4 separate regions of the Homo sapiens genome follow, and all the other regions are reported to be linked to region 4. The links are microRNA targets in miRTarBase. Many come from high-throughput screens and were not tested one by one. Region 4 holds a microRNA gene; each other region holds the end of a gene's coding sequence. Distances are from middle to middle.
Evidence for each region. The annotated mature microRNA hsa-miR-1226-3p reads UCACCAGCCCUGUGUUCCCUAG and lies in region 4 at 2,482-2,503, opposite strand. An mRNA with a match to its seed (bases 2 to 7 or 8) in the 3' UTR can be bound and repressed. Matches are read on the target gene's strand: a 7mer-m8 pairs with bases 2 to 8, a 7mer-A1 pairs with bases 2 to 7 and ends in A, and an 8mer does both.

Region 1: the mRNA of NDUFA10 is a reported target of hsa-miR-1226-3p. Seed matches in the 3' UTR shown: 7mer-m8 at 2,404-2,410.
Region 2: the mRNA of PCYT1A is a reported target of hsa-miR-1226-3p. Seed matches in the 3' UTR shown: 7mer-m8 at 2,464-2,470.
Region 3: the mRNA of MSANTD1 is a reported target of hsa-miR-1226-3p. Seed matches in the 3' UTR shown: 7mer-m8 at 6,246-6,252.

Annotation. Positions count from the first base shown.
Region 1 is chr2:239,955,223-239,962,374 of GRCh38, reverse strand. It overlaps NDUFA10 (NADH:ubiquinone oxidoreductase subunit A10), which reads left to right. Exons shown (of 10, transcript NM_004544.4): 10 at 1,189-5,003. The coding sequence ends at 1,257. Among named protein-coding and RNA genes, the nearest start is that of MIR4786, 16 kb to the right of the region's middle. RefSeq lists enhancers at 4,959-5,879, 5,880-6,800.
Region 2 is chr3:196,232,229-196,239,378 of GRCh38, reverse strand. It overlaps PCYT1A (phosphate cytidylyltransferase 1A, choline), which reads left to right. Exons shown (of 9, transcript NM_001312673.2): 9 at 485-5,011. The coding sequence ends at 691. SLC51A (solute carrier family 51 member A) reads right to left here. Exons shown (of 9, transcript NM_152672.6): 8 at 6,855-6,960; 9 at 5,952-6,316. The coding sequence ends at 6,180. Among named protein-coding and RNA genes, the nearest start is that of SLC51A, 19 kb to the right of the region's middle. RefSeq lists enhancers at 6,348-6,637, 6,758-6,827.
Region 3 is chr4:3,255,099-3,262,250 of GRCh38, reverse strand. MSANTD1 (Myb/SANT DNA binding domain containing 1) reads right to left here. Exons shown (of 3, transcript NM_001042690.2): 3 at 5,638-6,526. The coding sequence ends at 6,286. Among named protein-coding and RNA genes, the nearest start is that of MSANTD1, 9.5 kb to the right of the region's middle.
Region 4 is chr3:47,845,111-47,852,110 of GRCh38, reverse strand. It overlaps MIR1226 (microRNA 1226), which reads right to left and starts at 2,556; the gene lies at 2,482-2,556. It overlaps DHX30 (DExH-box helicase 30), which reads right to left. Exons shown (of 22, transcript NM_138615.3): 10 at 6,259-6,411; 11 at 5,110-5,946; 12 at 4,763-4,838; 13 at 4,575-4,679; 14 at 4,155-4,330; 15 at 3,725-3,931; 16 at 3,561-3,642; 17 at 3,294-3,487; 18 at 3,032-3,191; 19 at 2,762-2,919; 20 at 2,557-2,660; 21 at 2,342-2,481; 22 at 1,918-2,244. The coding sequence ends at 1,991. MAP4 (microtubule associated protein 4) reads left to right here. Exons shown (of 21, transcript NM_001385682.1): 21 at 1-1,416. RefSeq lists a silencer at 4,839-4,940.

The sequences.
Region 1 (7,152 bases), not on the chromosome of region 4:
TCAGTGATTTGTGATCCAGGCAGCCATGGCTGTGTGGATGGCTGTGAATGCCTGCTGCTGATTAGGATAAAGGAAAAGCTGATTCTTTTAAAAATGGTTTTAGTACCTGTTCTTAAGGGCAGAATTTGGAAGGGGTGTGTGTGTGTGTGTGTGTGTGTGTGTGTACACAAATTGACTGTGTGCCCATGCTGATTTGAAAATATGAAAAAACTCATCATTTTCCCACCTGCCATCGCTGGGCGACACACACCGTGCTGAGCGCTTTCTCCTGGCTCCGCAACGAGGTGGTCCTGCGGAGCAACACTCCTCTTTCCGTCTCAGCCAGCCCTGTGCTGGCCGCCTACCCTCATGAACAGGCGTCTTTGTGCTGGCAGGGGCTCTTGTTGCCCCCCAGATCTCCCTGTGCCCTGTGAGGTTGGCCTCTGTGGACCGCCACCTGAGCCCCTGATCTCTCCCAGATGGTGGGAGAAGTGGGGCCTGTAACATCCTTTCTGCAGCTCCATCACTGCCAAGCTCAGCCCCCCACTGGCCTCTCTGGCAGCATCCGCTCCTCCTGGGCTCTGTCGTCCTGTCGCTCCTGGATGTTCAGTGGCTCCCGCTAGGGTCAGTCCTGCAGTGCTTCCCCCTCCTTTGCTGGTTTTCCTGAACCCTGCCCATGTCTACTTAAAAGGCCTGGATGAAACTCACTTTCCTACTCCGCCAAGGGCCCCTTACAGCCAGCGGCCCGGCCTCTGCAGGCCCTCTTCAGAGGGAATTTCACGCGGGGCTTTTTCAGAGAGAACTCGGTGTTTCAGTTGGTGAACTGTGGTTCCTGGGTCCCAGCCCCACCCCTGTGTCTGCGTGGCTGTCCCTGCTCAGGGCCTCCCCTAAGTGCCACCCATTGCTCTCTGTCCCCCTCCTGTGGCTCTTGTCACCCTCCTGACATTAATGAGAACACTCAGTAGTTCGTTTCCATTTGTGGCTCCCAGCCCTAGGACAGAAGCTTCTGGCAGGCAGGGCTGGGTTGTGGTTTGTGTACCTGTGGCATCCTTGCACTCACAGGAGACACCTGCCACAGATCATGTGCTCACCAGCATTGCTGAAGGAACTCATGAAGTACAGGCATCTGCCGGGTAGACATTGAACTATGAGCTGGGGAAACATTCATTCACGTTAAACAGAATGCACCAATGCCTTTTTCCCCCACAGCTGCCGGGCCGCAAGTACAGCCCTGGGTACAACACCGAGGTGGGAGACAAGTGGATCTGGCTGAAGTGAACGGGCCGCCTTCTGCTCCAGCTGCATCACAGTGATGGCCAAGCTGCATCAGCCGCACTCTCCTGGACGCCATATAGCTTTAAGATCGGGGGAGGGTAAATAATGCAAAAATTGCACAGTGGAAGAAGGGGTCTCACAAAAAGCAATCCATCCTGTAGTATAGGTAATGGAGTTGGGGGAAGCAGCTTCCATTCTGGATGTTTGGAACCCTTTAGCTTTGTTTTGGAATGGCCCACCATTCTCACTGGAAAACAGTGGTCTGCTGTGAAAGGCCAGCTCTCGGCAGCCCCTGTGGTTTCAGCGCTGCCGCTCTGTGTCATTCAGGTTGTGCACATTGTTTTTCTTCTGACTTCCAGAAATAAAAGTGTTTCCATGGGAATTTCCCCATCGTACGTCTATGTGCGTGCGGGCACGTCGAAACTGCACACGTGCACACACGCTGCTCTGGGCCCTGTTTGGTGTGGTGTGGTTTAATTGAGGCTTACATTATGCTGAAGAGTTTTTCTAAAGGCCTACTGTATTTATTTTAGTAATGTGCTACATTAGAGTAGAAAAAATAAGAACGTGAAGAAGAAATAGCAAAAGGAGAAAATTACCACAGATTTACAGAACAATATGTTTTAAGAGAGACGTTGAGAAAGATTCACGTGGCCGTCCTCAGCGTCTCAAACTCCTTTGAAGGGAGATTTGAGCTTAGGCTGTTGATGACATAAGATGCAAAAGCAAAATAATATACTCTCTTTATTACCCAGAAAATCAAGTTGCCAGTCAAAACTGAGAAATGAGAAAGAAAATCAGATTTCTTTATTCATCTCTGTTGAAGCCTAGAAAACCAAAACAAGCTGGTTGTGGTTCAGCATCATGGTTTAGGAATCAAGCTGTCAGTTGTGAGTCCTACTGAACTGTGGGTTTTCCACTGTAAAGCTCCACTGTGTCCATTAGGAATCAGGCTGCCAGTTGTGAGTCCTACTGAACTGTGGGTTTTCCACTGTAAAGCTCCACTGTGTCCAATATGGTAGCTCCTAGCCACATGTGGGTATTGAAATTTAAATGAGCTAAAATGTAATAGAGTTTAAAATTGGGTTCCTTGGTTGCACTGGCCATAGTTCAGGCACTCCACAGCCGCCTGTGGGCAGTAGTTCCAGTGCTGGTGCAGAGGACGATGCTCTGCTCCCCGCGGAAGCTCTACCAGGCCTCGCTGCTGCGGAGCATGCGAAGAAGATGCACACTCCTTCCCTCCTTGCGTCCGCCTGCCTTTTTCCCTCTCCCCTTCCTTCCCTCCTTCTTTCCTCCTCCTTCCCTCCCTTCCTTTCTTCCTTCCATCTGTCCTTGTTTTCCTCCCTTCCCTTCCTCCCTGCCTCTTTCCTTCCCTCCTTCTCTTCCTTCCTTCCGTCTGTCCTTGTTTTCCTCCCTGCCTCTTTCCTTCCCTCCTTCTCTTCCTTCCTTCCTTCCGTCTGTCCTTGTTTTCCTCCCTTCCCTTCCTCCCTGCCTCCTTCCTTGTTTTAAGAATTTGAAAATAAAGTTTCCCAGGAGTTTTGAATTGGAGTCGAGATTTAAGTGGCTGAAGTTTTGCATTTCACTAGGAAACCAACAGCTTTAATCATGAAATGAAAGCACAGCTGGGCATTGGGCCAGTCACAGAGTGTCTTTTGCTCTGAGCACTTCACAAACCCATTGTGGAGGGGAGGAAAGAAAAAGAAAGCCATCTTTAATTATCTTAGCTGTTCCTAATGTCTTTGGCTGCAAAGAGCTAGCTGTTTCCTTCAACCTTGGTGGTTGCACGGGTAGTGTCCTCAGCAGTGAGAGGGCAGGTCTGCCCTGTGGTCAGGATTGCCCTTGTGAGGGGCAGAGCTCTCCAACCATGCAGGGCTCCGTGTCGGCATGGTGTGGACTCGGGTGCTCTGATCATCCCCTGTGTTTGCGTCTGACCCTGTGTGGTTGCATTCCCTTGATGGAGTGGGAAGTATGTAATTTGTAGTGCTGAGGACATTCGTCTGTTTGATTTTCTGGTGTTTTCAATGACATGCATGTTCAGCAGAGAAAGATGAATAAACACTGTCCAATTCTTCTCTCCACATAGAAGCCTCAAGAAGAGGTGAGGAGATGCCCCGATTTCCTTATTTCAGAGCAGTACATGCGTTCGTCTCACGAAAGCTCTTACAACTAAAACAACAGCACCAACAAACCAGGATCAAAATAATCGTGCATTTTCCAGGATTCCATGTTGGACTTCTCAGTGCTTTGGAGATCAGGAAATAATCATGCTGTTGCAGCAGTATGGTTTTGTGTCTGGATTTTATTCATACAGGCATGTGTTTACAGGCATGAGAATTCTGTATTGAAAAGAAAGTCCTTGTTTTTTTCTAACGTATCTTTCTGTTCCATCAACTGTTAAAACCAAATTGTTAAGAACATTGAGCTTCTTAGGAGAGATTACATGCAGCTACTTAGGACCACCTCAGCAAAATGGAGTTGCCTGGGTAGATAGCAGCAGCAGCTCACCAGCCCCACGCTGCCAGGCTGCTGGCTGCTGTCCACCAGGCAGCTGTGGAACCTCCATGTTCTGCCTAGGTGTTGTGGCAAGAACAGCAGGGAAACAGGCGGCCGCCTCCAGGCCACAGGTGGACCCAGGGACCTTCAGTTACGCCGCTTCAATTGAATTCGTGGTGGTTTCTCTGCTACAGCAGAAGTGGAAGAAGCTCTTGTCTTGTTTGGCATTTGTCCCATTTTTTGGCTAATAATTGGCTTTGAATTTCTCTGTGCCCTGCTTACCAATTATAGCTTTCTGGATTGGCTGTTCTTAGCAGTGCAAATGTCAATGCAAAGAAGCAAGCAGGCGGCTACTTTCTGGGAAGAAGCATAGTCCGTGCTCACACTGGATATAAATCTGCAAGATTTGGGGGTTTGGCAAAATAGGGGTGGAGGGAAAGCTGCCATGGCTGTCAGAAATTGGGGCTTTTTGAAGAAAAGCTTGTGTAGGCATCAGCCACTGGCTGGCCAGAATTCCATGAATGGAAGCAGGTGCCCGAGTGATCTGGGGCTTTACATGTGGATATAAATAGAAGCCGGGAGCCTGAGGCTTTGCTTTAGGAAAATCATGAGCCAGAAAACAGAGGAGGTGATTGTCAGTAGTCACCTCACGCCGCTAGTGTTTTCTAATACTCTCTCGAATTGTCAAAGCAAAGGACCTTATAACAGCAACACGTGTGTGACTCGAAGCAGCGAGCTTCCCTTGGGAAAAGGAGCCTCTTCTCAGCAGAGGGTCCCAGCCTTTCTGTCCTTCCCCATCGGAATGCCAGGCTCTGTGAGTTTGGATGTTGGACATTGCCACCTGAATTCCAGGAGGCCGGGGAGCTCCAGTGATGGACTTGTCCCCAAAAGAGTGGTGCTGTTCTCAGAGCCATAAATGTTCCACTGAAAGTGTCTGTCCCCTGGCTCACGCTGGCTGCGCTTGCTTGAAGGAGGCTGATTTAAGGGTTCTAATAGGAAGACAAATGAAACTGTCAAATTTTATCTTTAAGCATGTGAGTAAGTTTGCTCATTCGCTTTTACTATTGATGTATAGTTTTAAAATTCTTAATTTAAAAATTATTTTAATAGTAAATTTTTCACAAGTGAACACTTTTTATCTTTAAATTAAAATTCTGAAGCTCCCTAGTTAGTTAGATCCAATTGCTGGTTACATTTTGGGAAGCTCTCATTTTAGTGCTATGTAGTTTCATTGAATAAACATGTTTTTAATGAGACTATACCTGGTGATTATATTAAAAATCCCAGCTTTTAATTTGTAAAAAGCTGTTTCCTCTGGCATGTTACGCGTGGTCATGTGGGTTTTCTTACAGTGAACGTTGATGGGGCCTCCTGCATCCCGGGCAGCATCTCAGCGCTGGACACGTGGCAGTGAGAGCAGAAATGCTAGCAGTGGCTGAGGGGCGAGGCCCAGGTGGAAGCCCCTGATGCAGGGTTGTGCATGTGCAGAATCTGAAAGCTGTGAGACTTGGCGAGCCCGCAGTGGAGGGGGGTGTCTGAGCCGCAAGGAGGGTCTGGCCTGAGCTGCAGGGCACCCCCCAGAGCCCACTGTAGGTGTTGGAGGGCTGAGGAGAGTGCAGAGGGCCTGGGAGGCGAGGGAAGGAGTGAGGCGGCCAGGCTGGGTCAGGTGCTCCACACGCGTCAGGGAGAGGAGGACCTGCAGTGACTGTCGACATGACTTTGGCAAGCTCTGTGTCCGCAGAGCTGGAGCTGAGCTGGCTGGGGCAGGAGTCACAGTGTGGGAATTAAGGAAAAAACAAGCAGGTAGGGTAGAGAGCCGGACTACCATCAAAGCATGAGTTTTCTGCTGCCCGGCTCCGCCGTGACGCCACTCCTCCCACCAGAACGAGCGCGTTTGTCTCCACACTCTCCCCTGCTTGTCATTGAGCTTTGTTCGGTTTAGGAAGCACGAACAGAAAGGTGGCTGTGACAGGCAGTGGGCTGGAAAGTGCATTTCCACTGGTCTGCCCTCTCCTGGGACAAGGTGAGCTTGGTGCTTAGCACTGGGCCGTCCCGACTCCAGGAGCAACGCCAGTCCTCCAAGCACGGGAGGCTTTTCCTCCTCTCAGTATTGCAGCAGGCAGCGCACAGCCCTTCTGTCCAAATCTGGGAACCTGAAAGACCTTCGGAATCTTGCTGTTTTAGACGTTGTAAGAGGAGCGGGTAGGACCCCACGTGCTCAGGCCCCACGCTTTGGATCTACCCCCTCTGCAGCCAGAGGGACAAGCAGCTGCTGTGCTGGTCATGGCCTCATCCCGTGTGTGACGATGGCCACTCACGTCTTCTCATTCAACAGAAGTTATCACCGTGCGTCAGACTTTTATTTGGATTTTGTGCGTCTTGCATGTATGGTGGGGATGACCGGCCCCACCTCCAAGTGTAGGCGCTGGAGCCCCTGGGGACGCAGCGCTGCTTGTTCCTGACAGATGGGTTGCACCCGTGGGAGGGGTCCAGATGTGCTAGCTCTTGGGAGTCAGTGATGGGTGTACCGGGAATGGCCTGGCGTGCATTTCCATTCAGAAACTCCCAGTCCCTGCCTGGAACCTGGCTCCTTTTGCTGTTTTTTTCCCCCTTTCCTGTCCCTTTCCTGGGTGGCTGGTCCCTGCTGTCGCCCCTGCCTCCCTGGCTGCAGAGCTTTCCTCTGGAGGACTCGACACAGAGCCTGCGCCGTCTCTGACTCCGGGCTCTGCTGCCCTGCCCCACTTTGGTCTCTCAGGTTGGAGTTGAGGTTGCATCTGCTGAGAGCCGTGCCCACAGGTGAGGTAGTATCAGGGTCCTGAGCCAGAGTCCACTGTCCCCTGGCCGTGGGTTTGGAGCTGCCAGCCATCCTTCCCTGAGAACCCAGCCTATGACTCGGCTCCCCTTGGGCCTGCCCTATCTTTCCTTCCTGCCCTGGTCTGTCCTGCGGCCCCCTCAGTCCTCATGGCCAAGTCAGCCAACAGCAACCCACACACAGAGGCCACTTCTGGATGGGTGTCTGGCAAGGTGTGGGTCTGAATTCAGCCTTTTGCCTCGCGTGCCAACCCCCGTGTCCTGGGCTCTCCAAGAGCCACCTTAGGAAGATGGGGAGTGGGTCTGGACCACTGAGCAACTGGTCATTCTGCATCAGCTCCTGAAAGTCCCTTGTGGACCAGCTCCCTGATGAGGACAAGCTCTTAGCTCAGAACAACACAGAATCCAGCGCTGACCATAGGACGGCTGTCTAATGGTCCTTCTCTAGAAACCTCTCTGTGCCATTCTGAAAGTGGAAAATGCCGGCATTGGTCATGCGACCTTGCATAGCTGTCTATTTTCATGGTCTCTCCACCCACTCTGGCCCCTTCATGTTTTGTGGAGAGAATAGCAGACCTCGCCCCCCGCCCCAGT
Region 2 (7,150 bases), 150 Mb from region 4:
AAAGACGTTACACATTCTCCTAGATAATTTTGCCAGCTCTCTCTCAACCTTAAAGTCTGGTGACAAGATAAGCAAGTCGCCTTGCCCAGCTTTTATCTGTGGTATGATTTTAGATAGAAGGAAAGGAAAGAATAAAGAACAATAAAAAGAAAGCAGCCTCCACTACAAGTAGCTGCAGCAGGAACCCCAGGTAAGGTGGGAATTCTGTCTTTGAGGAGTAGCAGTCTTTTCAACCAAATAAAAGATTGAGCAAGTGAGTCCTAGGTTAGATATCAGGAAGGATCTGTCTGTGAAGGTGTTTGGATAAATTAGAATAATCCTAGACTAGATTATTGAGGAAGAATGGGGAATTTCCCGGGTGATGACAGCAGGGGAGAACCCTTAAATAAATAGTACAGCATAGACTATCCCAGTCCTAGATGCTTCAGTGATGATTAAGTAGGATCCACGGTGTTTTTCTGACTCTTCCTTTCGGTTTCTGCAGAAACATATGCTGAAAGAGGGGAAGGGCCGGATGCTGCAGGCCATCAGCCCGAAGCAGAGCCCCAGCAGCAGCCCTACTCGCGAGCGCTCCCCCTCCCCCTCTTTCCGATGGCCCTTCTCCGGCAAGACTTCCCCACCTTGCTCCCCAGCAAATCTCTCCAGGCACAAGGCTGCAGCCTATGATATCAGTGAGGATGAAGAAGACTAATGTTTCCTCCCTCCTTTCCTGTCCTCCCTTTCTGTCCCATTACCTTCAGAAGCTCTCTGTTGAATTCCAAATTGTGACCCCAACACTAAACCTAAGGACAGCTACAAAGGAAAGACAACTGGGGAAAGAAGACCTAGGACTGGGGGAACCCAAACAGCCTGTCCTGCAAGTGACATCACTCACCCACACGAAGGAGGGGGACTGCACCTTAGAAGCCTGCTCTGCATCCATTTACCCCCCCCCAAGGGCTTTGTTTCACTGTTTATGTTCACGTGATCTCAACAGGGAAATTGTCATTTTCATTAATTTTTTAAAAAATTCGTCTTTCAAATGTAGAACTAATTTTTTGCCCCTGAGGAGTGGGCAGAAGAAGGAGGTAGTGTAATACGCAGAGGCCTTTTCTTCCCGGTATACTATAGCATTTGCCTTCCGTTCTGAAGCTATGTGGCTTGCCAAGTCCTTCACGAAATGAGCCACGCTGATGGGTAATTTGTGGAGAAATATCTTAATTTTGATTTCCTTAAGGAAAAGCGAAAAGCAGAGTTACAGTCACAAATCCCCTGAACGTACTGCTGTCACCAGTGTCATTGTGGCTGCGGGAAGGAGATCTGAACCTAACTTTTCTTACTCCCTGAGGAGTTTCTTGTTGGACCCAATGGGGTCCATGAAGACACTGATGGGGATGGAAGCAGACCCATGGCATCAACTGCAGTGTTTCTGCTGTGTTCATCTTCTCAGAAAACTCTGTGACCCAGTTCTTTGGGAGCTTTTGTCAGTCTCTTTCGTGCCATCTACCTTCGAAGGAAGGAACACTTTTAGAGTTACAATGATGAGGAGAGGAGCGGGACAATACTCAATCCTATACCAAGTCGATTGAGATTAGTTTCCTACTGGGAGTAAGTGCCTGGCCCTGCTACTCCTATTTGAATGCTATTAATATTACCTAGCCTTTTACAAAGGATACTTTGTAAATGTCTGCTGTTGGAACTTGATGTTAATCCATTTTGGTCATAGCCATATTAGAGAGATTTGCACAGAATGTAAAGGCAAAAGCATAGGAAACACCTTCCTTTCTAAAGCAACAGCCTTATCACCTTGACCTCTGTCCCTCTTCAGAACATTCTTCCCTGGAACCAGTGCTCCACATCTTTCTTTTCCTCTGAGAGCTGCAGCTGGCAGGGACCTCCCTCTGCTGCTCCTCCAGCAAGCCACAGAGCATACCCTCACGTGACAAGAGTGTGGTAGGTTTTCTCCCCACTTTTCACACACGCCTGGTGGTTGTGGTTCCATCTGCCTTGTTGGCTTGCCCGGGGGGATTCAACACTTGACTTTCAAATCAAAGAATGCTAATGCTTAGCACTTGCTGTTGAGCATGCTCTAACTTTTAAAGCCCTGGCCTCCTGTCTCCTTAGCTGCTTAGCTACGCGGCCTAGCAGATCATCACCCATCAGTAATCCTGTGGCTAGATCCAGGGGAAAATTGCTTATGTCCAGGCCCCACCCCTGTCACTCATAAATACCCCTTGTGGGGGTGGAATTTTAGTGTTTTCAGCTAAGAAAACCACATTTTCTCTTTCCTTGCCTCTGCTAGGACTGTGAGCATCTCATAGTCCACTCCCTAAACACTTTCTGGTAACACCTAGTTTTCCGCCTGAGGGTCAGAGGCTAGAATCATTGCCTGCACAGCAGGACTACCTTGGTTCTTAAAACTTGGATCACCCAGGCAAGGCGTGGTGGCTCACGCCTGTCATCTCAGCACTTTGGGAGACTGAGGCTGGTGGATCACTTGAGGCCACGAGTTTGAGACCAGCCTGACCAACGTGGTGAAACCCCATCTCTACTAAAAATACAAAAATTAGCCAGGCGTGGTGGTGGGCACCTGTAATCCCAGCTACTTGGGAGGCTGAGGCAGGAGAATCCCTTGAACCCAGGAGGCGGAGGTTGCAGTGAGCAGAGATGGTGCCGCTGCAGTCCAGCCTGGGTGACAGAGCGAGACTCTGTCTCCAAAACAAAACAAAAACCACACACACATACAGAAATAAAGAGAAATAATCAACTAGAAAAAAAACAAAACTTGGATCACCCAGAAAGAGCGTCACAGAGGCGAGGGAGAATGAAGCCTCTTGTTATCCTGATCGCCTATGACAACGACATTTCTAACTCTTCTTTGAAGCGCAGTTCTTACTCTTAAATCTGGTCATACAAGCTTTGGCTTGGAATCCTGTCTGTCTTTGAAACAGCTGAAGTTAGTGTTTTCCTGTGTTACCCAGTGTTACATAGTCTCATCTTTGAACTTTTCTGCGTCAGCCTTCTCTCTTTGGGAATGCTGCCTGTTTCTGTCTAACTTATTCTCCCTGGTGTGGTGTGGCAGTGAAGTCTGTGCTGAAGCCCATCTGCTTGGTTCCTCCAAGTGCACATTATGCAAGTGTATTTGGATAGACAGGGAGATGCCCGGAACGTGGTTTTCCTCCTCCCTCCCTATTGGAGCCATACCTCCTAAATATATTGTCTGGGTCCCAAATGTTTGAGCCCTCTTCCTCTGCTCTCAGTGGGCTGCTCTTGGCATGCCCTGTGCTTGGAACGGGACCTGCAGGCTGACAGGCCTCTGAGACTGCTAGGGCCAGCAAACGTACATGTTATTGGGAAACTCCCTTTCCCCTTTTGGTGAGCTTCTACCACCTCAGTCTAATCGTTTTGACTGAAAGCTATTTGTCTGACTGAAAGCTAAAATCTTTTATAGTGTGGCCTGTTAGATACTTTGGGGTAAATGTGGTCTGAGGTGCTGGACTAGCACGGGTAGATGGAGAAAGCTGTTGGGAAGTTGCATAATGTGGTCATCTGTGCCTAATTAAATGAGGTTAGAGGTGTGCACACCACCACAATGCCTGGGATCTAAATCTTCAGATATTAACGTTTGAGGCTATGGAGCTGTTTCCCTGAATCACACACGAGAAAGCAGTCAACATGGGTGGGCCAAATGTGGCCAAGATGAGAGAGCCAGAAGTGTTGGCCTTAGAGCAGAGCCTCTGTGTGTGAGACATTAGAAGGCCAGAGCCGGGGAGGTGCCGGCGCAGCCACTGCCTTCCGGTGGGCCGGACGGAAAGCTTGGTCTTATGCTAGATTCAGAAGCACTGAAGAATGGAGGTTGACACTTTAGAGGACTAGGAAGGGATCATTTGTGCTCTTGCAGCTATTGCTGATAGCTAGAGCCAAAGACCATTATATTGCTGAGGCTTGGGTAAGAAAGTTAGGGATGTGAGGAGGTTGAAAATCCTGAAGAAGAGAAAAAATATGAGGGAGGCTAAGGAAACTTAGCCACTTTCTGATCACTGATGACTCCTTAGGCTGCACCTGAGTGATGGTGGTGTTTTTGGAGGCTGTACCTGAGTGATGGTGGTTTTTGGGGGGCTGCACCTGAGCGATAGTGATTTTTTTTTGGAGGCTGCACAGCTGGTCAGACCATCTCTAGATGTTCTTTCCACAGTGGTTCATAGGGCGTCATTCCCCCTTCCTGGATTATTTTGACTATGGGTAGCTTATTTTCAAGAGCTCTTTGCCTTTTTAATCCTGTTCCAGATCACTTATCCAAAATCTTTCCAAATCAATTATATTTTGCTGCTTTTCTTTAATTCCCTAAAAGCCATAGCTTCTAGATTTTCTATCAGCACACATTCTCACCAGAAGTTGAACCAATACAGGTAGAAAAAGAAAGCCCCCTTAATGTTTTTAACTGATGATATTTTTTTAAGCTTACCAATATAAGTATTTTTAAAGGTTCTATTTTTCAAAGTCATAACAATGATTGTTCTTGTTTTCTCTCATAGAATAGACTGCCATCGGATAAAGAGTGGTCCCTAGCTTCTATTTTTCCAAGTAAATAAGTAGAACATGTTCTTGGGATTATACCATTAAATGTTAATTTTCTTGAAGAAGAAAGATTGTTGTCTGCCAAGATTTTATGTTAGCGCTCGGATTGAGGCAGAAAACGGAAGCACCAGGTTTAACACTGGGATGACTTGGGTTGTGTTCCTGGAGGTTTGAAGTGGGCCTTCCCGCCTTTTGAGGGGGAAAACTGACTGTTTTGAACACATATCCTGGATTAGTTGGGTTGTTTTGTATTGAGGATCCCTAAAAGACAAAAGAGTCTTGGAAAGGACTGCTGGCTTCGTCTTGAACGTTCGCCCCATCACCAGTGTGAGTCCGTGGGGAAGTCTTCCTCAAGTGGGGTTCAGTCTGTAATTTTCCTGTCTGTTCTTAGTTTGTTCTGAGTTATTTTGGATTTTGTTCTTTAGCCAAATAAAGGCAGTGTGGTTTTACCTGATGTTCCATGTCCAGTGGTGTTTTTATTTTTTATTTTTATTTTTTTTGAGACGGAGTTTTGCTCTTCTTGCCCAGGCTGGAGTGCAGTGGCGCAATCTCGGCTCACTGCAGCCTCCGCCTCCCAGGTTCAAGCGATTCTCCTGCTTCAGCCTGCCAAGTAGCTGGGATTACAGGCATGCGCCACCACGCCTGGCTAATTAGTGTTTTTAGTAGAGATGGGGTTTCTCCATGTTGAGCAGGCTGGTCTCGAATTCCTGACCTCAGGTGAGCCACCTGCCTCGGCCTCCCAAAGTGCTGGGATTACAGGCGTGAGCCCCCGCGCCCGGCCGTGTCCTGTGTTTTGACCTGTGTGGTGCATTTTATGGATTTGGGACTTTTACTTGGACTCTCGGTGCCTTTGCTTCCACGTGCTGACTCTCTCCTTAGAAATCAAGCTCCATGACCACAGTGTCAGGAGATTCCTTTTCTAGCTTGTCACTGAAGACTCAAAAGCCATTGTCCCACAAAGTGAGGCTGACCCAGACCACCAGGGCCCCGCGTGGTTGGTGCCGTAGTAGCACACCTGTCAGGGAAAGGTCACCTTCCATCTGTTCTCCAGGGCCCCTGGCTTCTTCAAGACTCTGGGCTGGTGCTATTTCACCTCACCAAGTTCTCCTTTTCTTATGCCAGACACAATACTATATACTCTTCTTTTCATCTGCTTTAGGAAAGCTCAGTAAGCTTTCTTTTTTTTCCAGAGGCAGGGTCTGGCTGTATCACCCAGGCTGGAGTGTATGGCACAACCATTGCTCACTGCAGCCTCAACCTCCTGGGCTCAAGTGATCCTCCCGCCTCAGGCTCCCAAAGTGCTGGGATAGCAGGCATGAGCTGTCGCACCTAGCCAGCAATATACAACCTTGAAGGGTTAATAGTGACATGGACAGAGGCAAGGTGCCCAGTTACACATTTTCAGACATCATCTTGTTTATTACAAAACTTAAAACACCTTCCAGGCAAGATCCAAAGCAATTTTATTCTAACATTGTTCACCTTCATCTGTAGAGTCAAATGTATCTGCCAGCTTGTGTTGACAAGGGGGAATGCTTCCCATTTGGTCAAGGTTGAGGGACAGTAAAGGAATCTTGTATTCTAATGAGTACAGCATCCTTTCATTGTCCAAGCCATCCACCTTAGGCTTTGAGGTTCAAGTCCAGGTCTGGAGAAGAGAAAGTTTCATACCCAACCTTGTGGTCTTTCCTTCGGTAGTACATTCGTGTCAGCACAGTCATTAGAAAAGTCTCCAGTATGAGGAGGTGGCAATTCATCACTGCAGTGTAGGGTGAAATACAGCGTAGGTTATGCTGAGTTACAGAGGTGGTATTTTACTAGCAGCCCGGGCACGGGAGTTGAGCAACACTTTCTCCAGTTTATCCCCAAATCAGGACTTAGGGATACGAAATTGTCATAAATAACACAGCGGGTTAATGGTAGAGCCAGAACCGGAAGTTGGCTGTCTACTTCTGTGCTCTGAGGCTGGCATACAGTCCATTTCTTATGTGTGTTCAATCAACATGGGCTTCTGTTTTTTAACCATTCCCATTCCTCTCCCAGGAGCTGAGGACTGAACCCATGGCTTCCTGGGTTGGCCCTCAGGGCTGGCCTCAAGCTGTGGGGTTTCACTTCTCTTCTGTGTGATCAGAGAGGTCATAGTTTCCTTAAAGCCTCTGTTGGGATTTCCCGAAGATCCCTTCTGAACACTCTGAGCAGAAGTCAGGCTGGCCTAATGTCTGTTCTGGGGCCCCTTCTTTCCTGACTCTCCCCGTCTCATCCATCCCACGATGGGACAGGAGGCTTAACGTGCTCACCTTGAGACCTGGTTTTAGAGGAATAGGGAGGCGAACAAGCAATCTGCCCACCGTTGGCCAAGACTGAGAAGATGGAGGGCTGTAGGGCAGTCAGGATGAGGAGAACCTGCGGAACATAAAAGAGAGGCAAGGGTGGACTGGGCCTGCCCTCACGGCACAGAACGCAGCCAGCCCACTGCCGGGCCTTGCCCTTCCGCTGGGCAGGTTCCACCCACCGTCAGATCTGTGCAGTCACAGAGGGTTGAGGCTCTCACTTCATTAAAAATCTGTGGGATTTTCATCTTTAGGCAAATGAC
Region 3 (7,152 bases), not on the chromosome of region 4:
TCCGGGACTCTCTTGTCCCAGCAGAAAGCAGGGTGTCCCTGTCCAGGCCCACCTCGCCCTCAGAGCCAGCTCCCACCTAGACAGTGCAGCTCCCAGTGCTCAGGTGAGGGCGCCCCTCCCACTCCATCCGCTCACATGACATTTTTTGAAGGCCTTTTCTCTCACCCCACGGCTCCAATCCCCCTACAGCCTTATTTCCCTGGAAAGCACCTCTCTTCTAACATACTAGACACTTACGTGTTTATTGTTGGTCTAGCCCCACCCTCAACTCGAAACCCTGTAAAGACAAAGATTTGTATCTGCTTTCCACCTGACCCTATCCCCAGTGCCTACAAGACAGCAGGGAGTCCCTCTGGGCCCGCTTGGGGGCACGGTTCCCACACGCTGTCTGTGATGACGCCACCCAGTCACACGGAGGGCCCCTTTGTGTGACAGCGCCCGTGCGTCCACCAATCGCCAGTGAGCCAGCTCTGGGTACCGGGCAAGGACAGACGAGGCTCGCTCAGGTCACCTGTGTGCCCGCTCCAGCATTCAGGCAGTGGTTCTCAGGTCTCGGCCTGTGGGTCACCAAGGGTCCCTGAGGTTGCAGCTGCTTTCATCATAGTCTGATGATCACGGGGTCTTCACGGGGTCTTCACGGAGCTGACATGCGCACTGATGTGGCAAGACCTGAGCAGGAACGCAGGCAGGCCCCGAGCCCCGGCGCAGCCCTGAGGGGTTTTCGCACCGCACAGCTGCAGTGTGAAACGCCGGTCACTTCCAAATGTCCGTGATGGAGTGAAAATGGTCGAGTGTGTGAGGTCTTGACCCCTGGGTCCACATCTTTTCAACGTCCTGCCCGAGCAACTGGAAGGCGCGCCTGCCCCACGTCCACGCTGAGGAAATGCAGGTGTGCAATGGGCTGAGCTGCCGTCTGGATCTGGAACACACGTATGGAGCACACTTTTTACTCAAAAAAAGGATGTGCAAAAACTCTGGTTGTTCAGCCTTGGGTGTCCTGGCAGACTTTTTTTTTTTGGAAAACGAACAAAGTGAGCCTGTCTCATTCAAAGAAAATAGCTGACAGCATTTGTTACCAATGATAAAATTCAAGCTTTCATGCAAAAATCAGAATTCTGAAAGACACCACCATGAGTTCACCACCTTTCCAACTGAAAGACTTTTCTAAGATTGGTGATATCGCCAAAAGTGATTTTAAAATACTGATTAAGGAACTGTGTCAGCATTTGGAATATCCGCATAACTTAGTGAACCAAAGGCCCAGCGTGTGAGGTCACAAAGGCATGATGGACAGAGTCCTTGAAGCACAAGACGGACCAATGGATTCTCCTGAAATGAAGTAGAAGTTCATTGATAGGGTATCAGATTCCACACACAACCGGCCAGTAAAAAACCACCACCTGTCGGCCGGGCTAACACCTGTAATTCCAGCACTTTGGGAGGCCGAGGCGGGTGGATCACGATGTCAGGAGATTGAGACCATCCTGGCTAACACAGTGAAACCCCATCTCTACTAAAAATACAAAAAATTAGCCAGGTGTGGTGGCGGGCGCCTGTAGTCCCAGCTACTCAGGAGGCTGAGGCAGGAGAATGGCGTGAACCCGGGAGGCAGAGCTTGCAGTGAACCCAGGAGGCGGAGCTTGCAGTGAGCTGAAATCGCGCCACTGCACTCCAGCCTGAGTGACAGAGCGGGACTCCGTCTCCAAAAAAAAAAAACAAACCACCACCTGTCCAGTGTTGGAATAGGATCACGGAAGAATATACCGATTATTTGCAAAGGTTATTAAAATGTTCCTTTTCTTTTCAAATACACATCTGGGTAAGAATGAGCTTCTCCATTCACTCCTATACTTCACAACCAAAACACCCCCAAAGTGGACGGACCCAGAGCCTGCTGAGAGGCCAGTGGGCTTCTCTTAAGCCAGAGATTTACGACCATGTAAAACTATGCCACACTTCTCCCGAAAACTTTTTGTTTTGGAAAATATATTTTTCATACAATTGTTATTTATGTTAATATGTCATGGGTTTATTGCTATTTTGAAATGAATACATGTTTTCTAAAGGTCTCAGGTTTAATTTCTAATAAGATATTCTAATGTGTATTAATATTGGTCATTAGAACTCACATAAGCAAAAGTTCTTTGGCACTTTTAATGAATTTTATTTTATTTTATTTTTATTTATTTATTTATTATTTTTTTTTGAGACAGAGTCTCGCTCTGCTGCCCAGGCTGGAGTGCAGTGGAGTGATCTCAGCTCACTGCAAGCTCCACCTCCTGGGTTCACGCCATTCTCCTGGCTCAGCCTCCCAAGTAGCTGGGACTACAGGCGCCCGCCACCACGCCCGGCTAATTTTTTGTATTTTTAGTAGAGACGGGGTTTCACCGTGTTAGCCAGGATGATCTCAATGTCCTGACCTCGTGATCCGCCTGTCTTGGCCTCCCAAAGTGCTGGGATTACAGGTGTGAGCCACCGCACCTGGCCCACTTTTAATGATTTTTAAGAGCGTTGAGGGGTCCTCAGACCAGTTTGAGGACGGCTGCCGCAGGGTGGCCTGTCTAGGAGTGGCACTGACCAGAGGAAATGCGTTTCTTCAGCTTTAGGACGGGACACCAAATTGCTCCTGGAAGCGGCTGCACCACATCCCACCAGCAACGCAGGAGTCTCCATTTCCCGACGTTCGTCCTGGCCTCCAGCAGCCACATGATCTCAGTCTGCGGTTCCAACTCCCCGACTCCGAGGGAGGCCGAGCGGTCTTCTCACGCTGACTGGCCTTGGACTTTTGGCCCCGTTCTTTTTTCATATGAATTTAAACATCATCGCGTCCATGTCAAAACCAAGAAGTGATATTATTGAGACTATGTTTGGAATGACATTAATAAAATGATGACATTGACTTTGGAGCTTTCAGGAGTGTGCGAAGTTTCTCCAGCGCTCAGGTATTATTTAGATTTTTCAGTAAGACTGCATAGTTCTCTTCAGTAGAGGTCCTGTTCCTTCTGGGTTAAATTCATTCCAACTCTGAATGGGATATTTCTTCATCCTCATTTTCAACAAGTTTAAGCTGGTTTAAAGAGCTCCCAGTCTTTTGTACATTTGGCTTTCTGGGTATACAAAAATGAAATCTGAAAACAAAGGTAACTCTACTTTCTTCATTTCTTATCCTGCTTATTTTATTTATCTTTTTTTAATTTTTTTTTTTTTTTGAGACCGAGTTTCACTGTCACCCAGGCTGGAGTGCAGTGGTGCAATCTCAGCTCACTGCAACCTCCGCCTCCCGGGTTCAAGCGATTCTCCTGCCTCAGCCTCCCAAGTAGCTGGGATTACAGGCATGCACCACCACGCCCAGCTAATTTTGTATTTTTAGTAATGACGAGGTTTCTCCATGTTGGTCAGGCTGGTCTTGAACTCCTGACCTCAGAGGATCCTCCCGCCTCAGCCTCCCAAAGTGCTGGGATTACAGGCGTGAACCACCGTGCCCGGCTTTTGTTTATTTATCTTAATGCATTAGCTAAAAACGTCAAAACAACATGAAATACTACAGGTGAAAAGCAAGCACATCTGCCTGGCTCCTGATTCTAGTTTTCAATGTTAACATGCTGCTTTGCTGAATCTTATCAAATATTTTAGCAATGGCTGAGATCATTTTTTTTCTCCTTAATGGACCAACAACTAAGGAAGAAATCAGAAAGTTGTTAAGGACATGCTGCTGATGAAAGGCACCAACCCCACGATATTCTACAGCTGAGTTCTGCTGACATGAGGCGATGCTGCTCCAGCCTGGAGAAGGTCGGGCAGCGCCTGCCCCTTCTCTAAGGTGATGGAAGGGCATGAATCACTGACTCTGATTAGAGAGGGCGAGAAGAAAACAGACCAAACCACTTCTAACCCAAGCACAGCAGCGACTCGCGGTGTGCTGTCCCGGATGCCTGGCAGTTACTGAAGTACCGGTGCGTCATGGCTGACTCTACAGCAGTTTCAGGGTGAAGAAGTTGCTACATCATTTAGAACCTCCATCTGTTATGTCTTGTGGGAGCGTCCAGCCTAACCTTCCTGCCAGGGCCGCGGGCACCCTTCCCTCTCGAGGGCTTGTGACTGGCTCCCTGTTAGGAGGCTGGGGAACCCCACACTGGCCCCATGGGAGCTGCTAGCCAGCCTCAGTGGTCAGCAGCTGGGGGCAGGTGCCTGTGTCATGGCTGGGTTCCCAGCATCTAGGGTGGCACAGGTGTCCAGTTGGAGCCCAGTGTGTTTGTTAAGCAAATGATTTCTTGGGTGGTGTCTTGCCTACGAGGCGGGTGGGTCCCGGAGCTGGAAACTGGCTAGAGCAAAAGCTCCCAAAACTCAGGCCCGCATCAGATGTGCCCGCATCCTCTGTCCTCCTGGGGCCACCCTTCCTTCTGCTTCTCGGCAGGTGCTATGGCAGCCACACTGGCTTGCAAGAGCTGGCTCTGTGCATCTCTTCTCAACCACAGGGTCAGCGGCGTCATCTGGCAGCTGGAAACTGGCACCGTAGCGCTGGCTGCTGCTCCCTCCTCCCACCACTGCCGCCGCTCCTTACACCCTCACGACACTCTGCCTCTCATCCCACAGCAACATGGGCCGAGTCCTCGGCACACAGGCTCTGGGGAGATGGCTGAGGAGGGTGGGAGCTCCAGGACCCTCAGAGTGAAGTGAATCCTGCTTGCCCAGCTCCCCTTTGGGCTCCACAGAACACGCCGGCCTCTCCTTCACACAGGCAGGCCGAGGGCACCCTCCACACCACCATGGTCCACAGGCTGGTCCCACACCCAGTGGAGTCCAAGCTGCTCTCTTGCCTGGCTGACCTCAAGACCCCCTAGAGGGTAGGATGAGCTGCTGCTGCTTGTCGCAGGATGACTGCAGCACTGCCTGGCAGGATGCCTGCTGCCACACCTGCCTCTGCACCTGTCTCCACGGCCTGCTCGCTTGGCAGCCAGAGGGAGATTTTTCTGAACCCTGAGTCAAACCATGCTGTTCACCTGCTGACCCACCTGCCAACAACCTTCTATTTGGGCAGCAACTTGCCTAATTCCAGGAGGTGACTCAAACACACCTGGCCCCAGCCTCCTTTGCAGCCAGGGCAACCAGACGCCCGAGTCCCGGCCAAGGAGGCTCATAGAGAATTCAGCTTTGGGAAAGCTGGAGCTTCTAGAAAGAGTTTGAAACTGGTGGAAGGGCCGGCAGTGAGGTGAGCTTGCAGCTGTGGCCGCTCCACCACCCCTCTGTCCCCCACCGATGTCAGACCCAGAGCTGCACTGGCCAAAAGACTCCCACTAAGCTTGAAAAGCATGAACACTCCTCCCCACGGGCTGCACGGGCTTCCGTGGCCTGGCTGCTGGCCACCAGCCTCCTAGCTGCTCCTGGGCTTGCTCCAGTGTCCTCTGCCTCTGGGCCTTCGCACTGGCCGTTCCCTGTGTGGCCACTGTTCCCAGCTCCACGTATGTCTGCCTCCGTGTCCTCAGGCCAACCCCTCCCTTCCAGCACTTATCACAACCTGCAACCATTTCTCTACTGACCCATGTGTCTTCCCCGCATGGGAGCATAAGCTCCAAGAGGCCAGGGCCTTTGTGTCATCCACCATGATATCTCCAGCACCCAGAACACTCAACAGGGCTGTGCATGTGAACAGGTGTTACGACTTTTATTAGTGTCATTGCTAAGGAGGCAGTGGAAACACCTGATGCTCCAAACAGAGCTGAATAAAAGCCTCCTGGAAGGTCGCTGGGGTTTTCATCAGGCGTCAGAGGCCATTTAAGGAGAGACGCAGAGGTCCTGGTGAGGGAGGACACAGGGTTCCCTTCAGGAGAGAGCTCCCCCAGCTCCAGCCTGCCCCAACCCGTTTCCATCTGCTTTCATTTTCGGGATCCATCAATCAGGGCATCCTCACCAAGCCAGCAACAGCAAACTGTGCGTTCCAGGCAAGAATGAAAAAGTATACGTTTAATATCAAAGCCACGTCAAGTATCATTGATAGTAACGACACTGGAGAGTGGCTCTAGGACGTTCTTACTCGGAGTGAACCCCAGAGGCCCTGGCCTGTGTCCGAGGAAGGGCATTCATGCTGGAGACTGGAGCCTCACGGTCCCCAGGGCCTGGGGGTTCCTCAAAATACCCCTCAGAAGGGACATCCTGCCAGAGGCCAGGTGGAAGGCGGTCTCCGCTCGCGGGGCGGCCCCCTTGCCCGCCTGGCCTGAGTGGCCTGCCCTGGGTGGCCTGAGCAGTACCACCAGCCGCCCGGCCCCGCCGCCGCCGCCGCCTGCTGGCCTAGACGCTGGACTTGGTGATGATCCTCTCCAGCAGACTCATCATGCGCTCCTGCAGCTGCAGGCTCTGCACCTGCAGGATGTGCTGCTGGTCCAGCACGCGGCGCACCTCGCGGCAGGTCTCCTCCACGGCGCGGCTCAGCCGGCGCTGCTCCTCCACCATGGCCTCCAGCAGCCGCAGCTGCTTCTTCTGCAGGTGGCAGCTCTGCACCTTGCGCTTCTTCACCGGCCGCTCCTCCGACCTGGAAGGACAGTGCCGGCTGTGGACGTGCTGGCCACAGAGCCTGGGCACACCAGGGGCCTCACCGGACCCTCCCGACAATCCTACTGGGCAAATGGGGAAACTGAGGCCCCAGGGAGTCAGGTCACTTACTCAGGGTCTCATATTCCATGTGCAAAGGAGGGGCCAGAACCCACCGCCTTTGACAGAAAGTAACAGGGGTGGCCGGGTGTGGAGGCTTATGCCTGTAATCCCAGCACTTTGGGAGGCAGAGGCAGGTGGATCACCTGAGGTCAGGAGTTCAAGACCAGCCTGGCCAACATGGTGAAACCCCATCTCTACTAAAAATACAAAAATTAGCCAGGCGTTGTGGCGGGTGCCTGTAATCCCAGCTACTCGGGAGGCTGAGGCAGGAGAATCGCTTGAACCCACGAGGCGGAGGTTGCAGTGAGCCAAGATCGCGCCACTGCTCTCTGCACAAGAGCGAGACTCCGTCTCAAAAAAAAAAAAAAAGAAAAAGAAAGAAAGAGAGGCCACAGGCATTGCCGTCCTTTGCGACTAGCGGATGACCCCAATGACCAGGGTCCCAGGACAATCCACACCCCTTCGGTCTGGAAAGGGTGGGATGTTCTGGGCTGCAGAGGGGCA
Region 4 (7,000 bases):
CCTGGAGGCGGTGCGGCAGGGAAGAGGGGTGCAGAGGCTGTGGCTGGTGAGCCGGTCAGGCACACAAGGGGCCCTTGGAGCGTGGACTGGTTGGTTTTGCCATTTTGTTGTGTGTATGCTGCTTTTCTTTTCTAACCAAGAGGCTGGTTTTGGCATCTCTGTCCCATTCCCTGGGATCTGGTGGTCAGCCCTAGGATAAAAAGCCAGGGCTGGAGAACAAGAAAGGGCCAGGAGATGGAATTCCTTCAGGCCGGCACCCACACCCTAGGACATGTAAGCCCTCATGTCCAAGGGAGCCTCATGCAGATAGTAGGAAATCAGGTCTGGAAATTTAAAAATAAAAGGCATGAGACTAAGGCTATCTGCTTCCCTTATGCCCTGACTGGAGAGGGGAGGGAGGAGAGGCAAGGCCCACAGAGGGCATCCCAGCTAGGCCTTGGGATGGCTGCAGTGAGGAGAAATCCCGGGAACTGTATTGACACAAAGATTCTTATTGCACTTGTATTTTTTGTATTAAAGTTTGCATGGTTTCTAATAAAGGATTCAAACATAAGTTTGTAGTGAAATGGCCTGGGAGATTCCAAGGGCTTCTCTGGAGGGGGATTGGCTGCAGTGTAGATTTGCCTCTGAGGAGGCTGCCCCAGACTTGGCCTCCTCATGCCCCCTCCTGACCTCTGCCCTTCTCTGGTCCTGGCATCCCTGGAGAAGGTAGGGGTCTTGACCTAAGTTTAGATTTGATCTCCATGTGCAGGGAGGCTGTCCTGGGCCTGACAGGTCCTCCCCCTTTCTGAGGTAGCAGTGCCTTGTGGAGGTTTGACACCATGTCCCTAGCTCCCCAAGCACACACCAGGAAACTGCAGGGGCTCACGGAGGAAGTGCTGCCTGGGCCAGGGGGACCAGCTTTCCTCCGTAGAGACCATGTGCAGAACACTTCTGCTGTGCCAAGAACATGAGGGAGCCAGTGTTTTGTCAGCAGGAAGAAAGGGCCTGCTGGGATGAAAGTGGGAAGGAAACAGGGTTGCGTAGTCAGGAGACACCTCAGGGGCAACAGCACAGGCCCAGAGTACCTGCTGCCTCCACTGCGTCTGTCCTGGGGTCATGAGGATGCTGAGGTTGACGACAGGTTCCAGGTCCTTTCACTCCTTTGGCCAAAGGTTGGGGGTAGGTGGCCCAAGTGGCGTGCTCTCTAGGTAGACAACAGGAGTGGTCAGAGTTCCCTCAAAGGATCCTCCACTCCAGAGCACCTGAGAAGGCCGGGACCAGAGGCCCTGTGTGATGTGTACTCCGCAGCTGTTTGGGGTGGGACATTTCTGTACTTCTCGATTTGCTTATGGCTCAGCCATTACCTGTGTCAGTCCATGATTCTGTTGTAACAGTTTTAAGAGTAAATAAATAAAGCTGCCTGATGTCCCATCACGCAGGCTTCGTGCTTCTGTCTCGTTTTGCATCTACCACCTCCCTGGATCTTCCTGCCCTCAGCTCAGCCCCTCAGCTGTGAACTTGTGGATGTGGACACGGGAAGGACCACTGTGCCACATAGCCCTGCGCCTTGGCTACCTGTGGAACTCTCCCCTAGTCTGCCTGATAAAGGGCTACTTGACACTTACTTGCTTACTTACTGTCCAAAACTACAAGGACAGTGACAGTTCTGACAGGCTTCCTGTGGTGGGTACCGAGAGCAGCAGCTGTGCCAGGGGACTGGGGTGGTTAACAGCACCGCTGCTTCATGCTCTTTCTTGGTGAAGGGAGGAGGTTCCAACCCCCTTCTCTCTTAAAAGACTTGGGGCCACAGCCAGCCCGTTCCCCAGCAATAAGCATCTCACTCTCTTCTCTACCTACCTTCCTCCTTCCTCTTTGGGGAACCGTGGCCCAGTGTATGGAGGCCCTGAGAGAGGAGCCCCTAGTGGACAGCAGTGGTCACAAGGGATAAATAGAACTTTATTTTAAATAAACATTTGCACTCTGTACACAGCCCCAGCAGAAGCAGGGCTCAGTCGTCAGCTGTCTTGCGCACATCAAAGCTGCCACAGGGTCCTCGCAGCAGCTCTGCCAGTAGCGCAAGCAGCTGCCCGTGCTCCTCCTGTACGCTGGGGGGAAGTGCAGCCAGCTCGCTGCGCAGGCTCCGCTCCACCATGCGGCCCAGGGCCCGCCGCAGCTCCTTCAGCAGCCGCACGGTACGCGAGTCACCCTCCAGCCGCAGCAGGTCACTGTCGCTCAGTGAGATGGTGGCCCGGCGCCCGTCATCTGAGGGAATGGAAAAGATGGTGGGGAACTGTGGTGAGGCCAGGCCCCGGAGGAGCAGCTGCAGAGCGGGGTGGGCGGGAGGCCTGCAGGCACCCACCACGGATGTGCACGTCCCCGTCGGTCAGCAGCAGCACAGCTAGCGGGTGCACCTGAGAGGAGTCCCGGACGAAGACGCTGCCATTGGACTTGACTGCCATGAAATACGTCAGCCATCGGCTCCGTAACCGTGTGGCCTCCCTAGGGAACACAGGGCTGGTGAGGCCACCCTTTTGGACCATCCCAGCTGCCCCATCCAGGCCTGCATGCCCTCACCTGTTAATGGTCGACTTGTGCAGCAGGATGTTGCCTGATTTGGTCCTATATGTGACGCTGTTGGGCTTGAACTTCCCCTGCCGGGTGACCTTGCCCTGCCTCACCTGCAGGGATGGAGGAAAAGACGGGTGGGGCTGAGCAAGGAGCTGCAGACAGGGAAGGAGGCTGGGACCTGGTGAACTCCATTCCCTCCCAGAGGCAGCACCTGGATGAGGTTGGGGTAGAGGCCGGCCATCAGCACGCCCTTCACCAGCTCCTCCTCCTCACTGTACTCGTTGCACTGGGCGGAGGCCAGGGTGCAGTCCGAGGGCTTCCCCACCAGGAAGGCCTCATAAATGTTCTCTGAGAACTGCTTGATGAGTCCTAGGGAGACAGAATGTGTGGTGGACCTACAGCCCCTAGCCACAGGCTGGAGGTGACAGAAACTCAGTGGGGGTGGGAGGGGCTCAGGAGAGCAGGTGTGGGCCCGACTGACCGTGGATGAAGCGCAGGCTGGGTGCGTACAGCAGGTTTTCCTCCAGGTAATTCTCCCGGGAGCTGCGGTCCTGCCAACGCAGCACCTCCTCCCAGCCGGCGACAGCCCGCACAAAGGCCAGGTGGTCACTGCCGCTGTCATGGCTCAACAGTGCTTTCACCTGGGAGGGGAGAAGAGGGCAGCCGGATCACAGGCAGGGGCTAGACAACGCCCCCTCAGAACAGCAGTGGGTGGACGGCTCCAGGAAGGAGCCAGGACTGACCTTGTCCACCTCTGCCCGGTTCTGTAGGCTGCTGCTGAAGGGGTCCCGGGTGAGGCAGGAAACGACCACCAGTAGTGGGTGCAGGCAACGGAAGATGGCAGCCAACACAATGGCCTTGGCCAACCGGGGGTCGGTGGAGATGTGAGCCAGGCGCTGCCCCAGGGTAGTCAGGTACTCCCGCTGGTCCAGCACCCCTGCAACGGCTCAGCTGTCAGTACCACCCTCGAGAGCCACTCCCCAGCCCAGCCCAGCCCAGCCCCTACATACCGATCTCCTGGAGCAAGATCACAGCCTCGTCCACTGCCTTGATGTTTGGACTGTCCACAGCCTTGGACAGGAACTCCACCGCCTATGACAGAGCCAGAGCCCGCCATGAGCCTGCCTCCCACCTGCCTGGTCCCCAGGCCAGCCCCTGCCCCGCCCCGCCGCACCGTCTTCTCAGGCATGTGGATTTTCGCTTGCAGCACCAGGTTCTCAAGAGGTGTGCGCAGGATCTCTGGCACTTGGAAAGGGACCATTTTCTCCAGCCGGCTTCGAGGGAACAAGTGGTAGGCAAAGCCGGACTGGCAGCGGCCCGCCCGGCCCCGGCGCTGGATCACATTGGCTCTTGATACCCACACTGTCTCCAGGCAGGACACCTGGAGGAGGTGGCAAGTAAGCAGCACACAAATGCCACTTCCTCAGTGCTTCCCCACTCCCTGAGTAACCCTCACCAGCCCCCTACATCAGGAACACTGAGACCCCACAAGCGCGGCCTTCTGAAGACACACAAAGCAGGTCTAAGGTAGATCTGGGCTGGGGACCACCTCAAAACGGAGTCCCTCCCCCAGTGGTTGGCCGGGCCCAGGAGGTAGGTGCCACCTTGGTCTTCAGGTCATAGCGTTCTTCCTTGTGCAGCCCACTGTCCACCACATGCACGATGTCATTGATTGTGATGGAAGTCTCAGCAATGTTGGTGGCCAAGACAATCTTGCGCACCCCAACTGGAGGCTGCTGGAATATGGCCTTCTGATCCATCATGGGGATGTTGGAGTGCACTGGTGGGCAAGACACACACCAGTTATGGGCACTGCTTCCACCAGAATTCCCCCCTGGAATGTGGGCAGGGCAAGGATTTTGACCCCATTTTGATGAAACAGGCGCAGATAAACACTATGCCCAGTGAAAAGTGCCACAGCTTGGTCAGAAACCGGGGCCCCTGGAGTCCCAGTTGGGTCAGTCCCTAGGACAGAGGTCAGGCTGGTTTCCAAAGGTCCCTGGTCCCTCCGCCGGGGCTCTCACCTGGCAGGATGAGGTACTTGCTCTCGTGCATGCCCAGGGCCTCCTGGAGGCGCTGCTGCACTCCTTTGATCTCCTGCCACCCAGGCAGGAAGCACAGGATCCCACCTGTAAAGGAGCCCTGGGGCATGAGCCAGCTGTTGCTGCAAACGTGGCCAGGGCTAGCATGGGACAGATGGGGAGGCACCCACCTGGTTCCCCGCGAGCATCGATGTGCAGAACCAGATCAGTCACAAGGTCCAAATCGAGTGCGCATTCATCCTCAGACTGGGGTGGGGGAAGAGAGGCCACAGTCACAGCCCCGGGGTAAGGGGTCATGCCAAGGACACAGCCACCTGACTCAGTGAGACGGAGCCGCTTGACATCAACTCCAATCCTCACGTGTGCCACGCAGGCAGGGTTAGTCCCCAGTTTCTATCAAGGAAACCGAGGACTGGGGAGGGTAACTTGCCCCAGGCACCAAGCCCCAGGGCCAGGGAGGAGGGGCATCCACGGAGGAAAGGCCAGGAGCCTTGGGTGGGATGGGGGTGTCCCTCACCTCATGGTGCCGGTGCCGGTGCAGGTACTGGTGCTTGCCCAACTTGGCCAGGATGTCCTCTAGGTAGTGCTCCTTGACTGGGTACATGAAGCCAGGCACCTTGATGACGGGGCAGCCACCAAAGTATCGGGAGAAGCGCTCATTGTCCCCTGTGGCACTCATGAGCACCAGCCGCAGGGCCGGGTTGAGCCGCTGCAGGCCCTTGAGCAGGATCAGCAGAAAGTCTGTGTTCACGTCCCGCTCATGCACCTCATCCACGATGACGTGGCTCACGCCCTCCAGGCTGGGGTTGCTCTGCAGCTTACGCAGCAGGATACCCACAGTGCAGAAGAGCAGGGCCCCGCCTCGGGATGGGGGCTTACTTTCCAACCGCACCTGGAAGCCCACATTCCGGCGCAGGGAGGGGCCCAGTTCGTGGCTGACCCGCTGTGCCACAGACACAGCAGAGATGCGGCGAGGTTGGGTGATGATAACATTGCAGCGGGCACCTCGGCCCTCGGTCACATAGCGCTCCAGCAACAGCTGGGGGATGCGCGTGGTCTTCCCACAGCCCGTGTCCCCAGAGATGACCACCACCGGGTGCTGCTCAATGGCGTTGAGGATGGTGTCCCGATGTGGGTCCACAGGTAGCTGGGGGGCCTCCTGCCAGACCGGCCCTCGCCGCCGCCACAGTTCTAGCAGACTCTGGCTGAGACGTACCTCCTCTGCTTCCAACAGGGGCACATAGGGCTTGCCTGTGATAGGGTCACTCAGAGGCCCTGAGTCCTTGCCCAAGGGCAAGATGTCATCACTCTGCAGCCGGAGTTCTGGGGCGATCCATGAACTCTCCACAGGGTACTGGAGGGCAGGGAGGCAAGCAAAACAATGAAAAAGAAATTCCTCATTCACACACAACCAGCCACTCTGCAGGATTCGCCTGGGTCAGATGTTGTGGCCCAACCCGCTGGGCAGAGGATTAATTTAGTCCATGACTGCCCCGGGATCCTTGTGGGCAAGACTGGGCTGTTCAGGCCAGGGGGATCCCAGGCCCCAAACTCAGTGAAGAGAATGGGGAGGTACTACTGCCTGTCGCAGGTGGAGGCCTTCAGTCTGGAGAGATGGAGGCAGACTACAGGGAGCAGGGGTGGTGAGGGATGCAGGGCCTCTTACATGGTTCAGGAAGGTCTCTATCTTGCGGAGGATGGGCTCGGGCACCTGGATGGTGCATGGTCGGCGCTGGGTCTCACCCAGCTCACGCAAAGAGGCCAGGTTATACATGGCGTGTGTAAGCGGTTCGTTGTTCCTGTCCACCAGGCCCAGGCTCTGCAGGGGGACATGCAAGACTCAGTCTATGCTCTGGGGCTCCCCAAAAACCAGCCCAGACAAGCTCAGGAGCTCCAACGCATAAGTTGTGCCAAGTAATCTCTAAGAGATTTTGGATTTTGGCTGACATGGTGATGGAGGGAGAAATTATGAACTAGGAAAATGTTAACTTACCAAAATAAACGTTTTAAAAAATGAACTAAAGTTAATTCAGGCCGGGCGCGGTGGCTCACGCCTGTAATCCCAGCACTTTGGGAGGCCGAGGCAGGCAAATCACCTGAGGTCAGGGGTTCGAGACCAGCCTGGCTAACATGGTGAAACCCCATCTCTACTAAAAATACAAAAATTAGCCAGGTGGGGGGCCGGCACCTATAGTCCCAGCTACTAGGGAGGCTGAGGCACGAGAATCGCCTGAACCCTGGAGACACAGGTTGCAGTGAGCCGAGATCATGACGGTGCACTCCAGCCTGGGCGACAGAGCGAGACTCTGTCTCAAAGAAAATAATAATAAAGTTAATTCAAGAAAAGCTAAACCTGATGTGTCACAGCAGAACAGCCCTACGTCTGGAGAAGGCCCTGAGGAGAAACC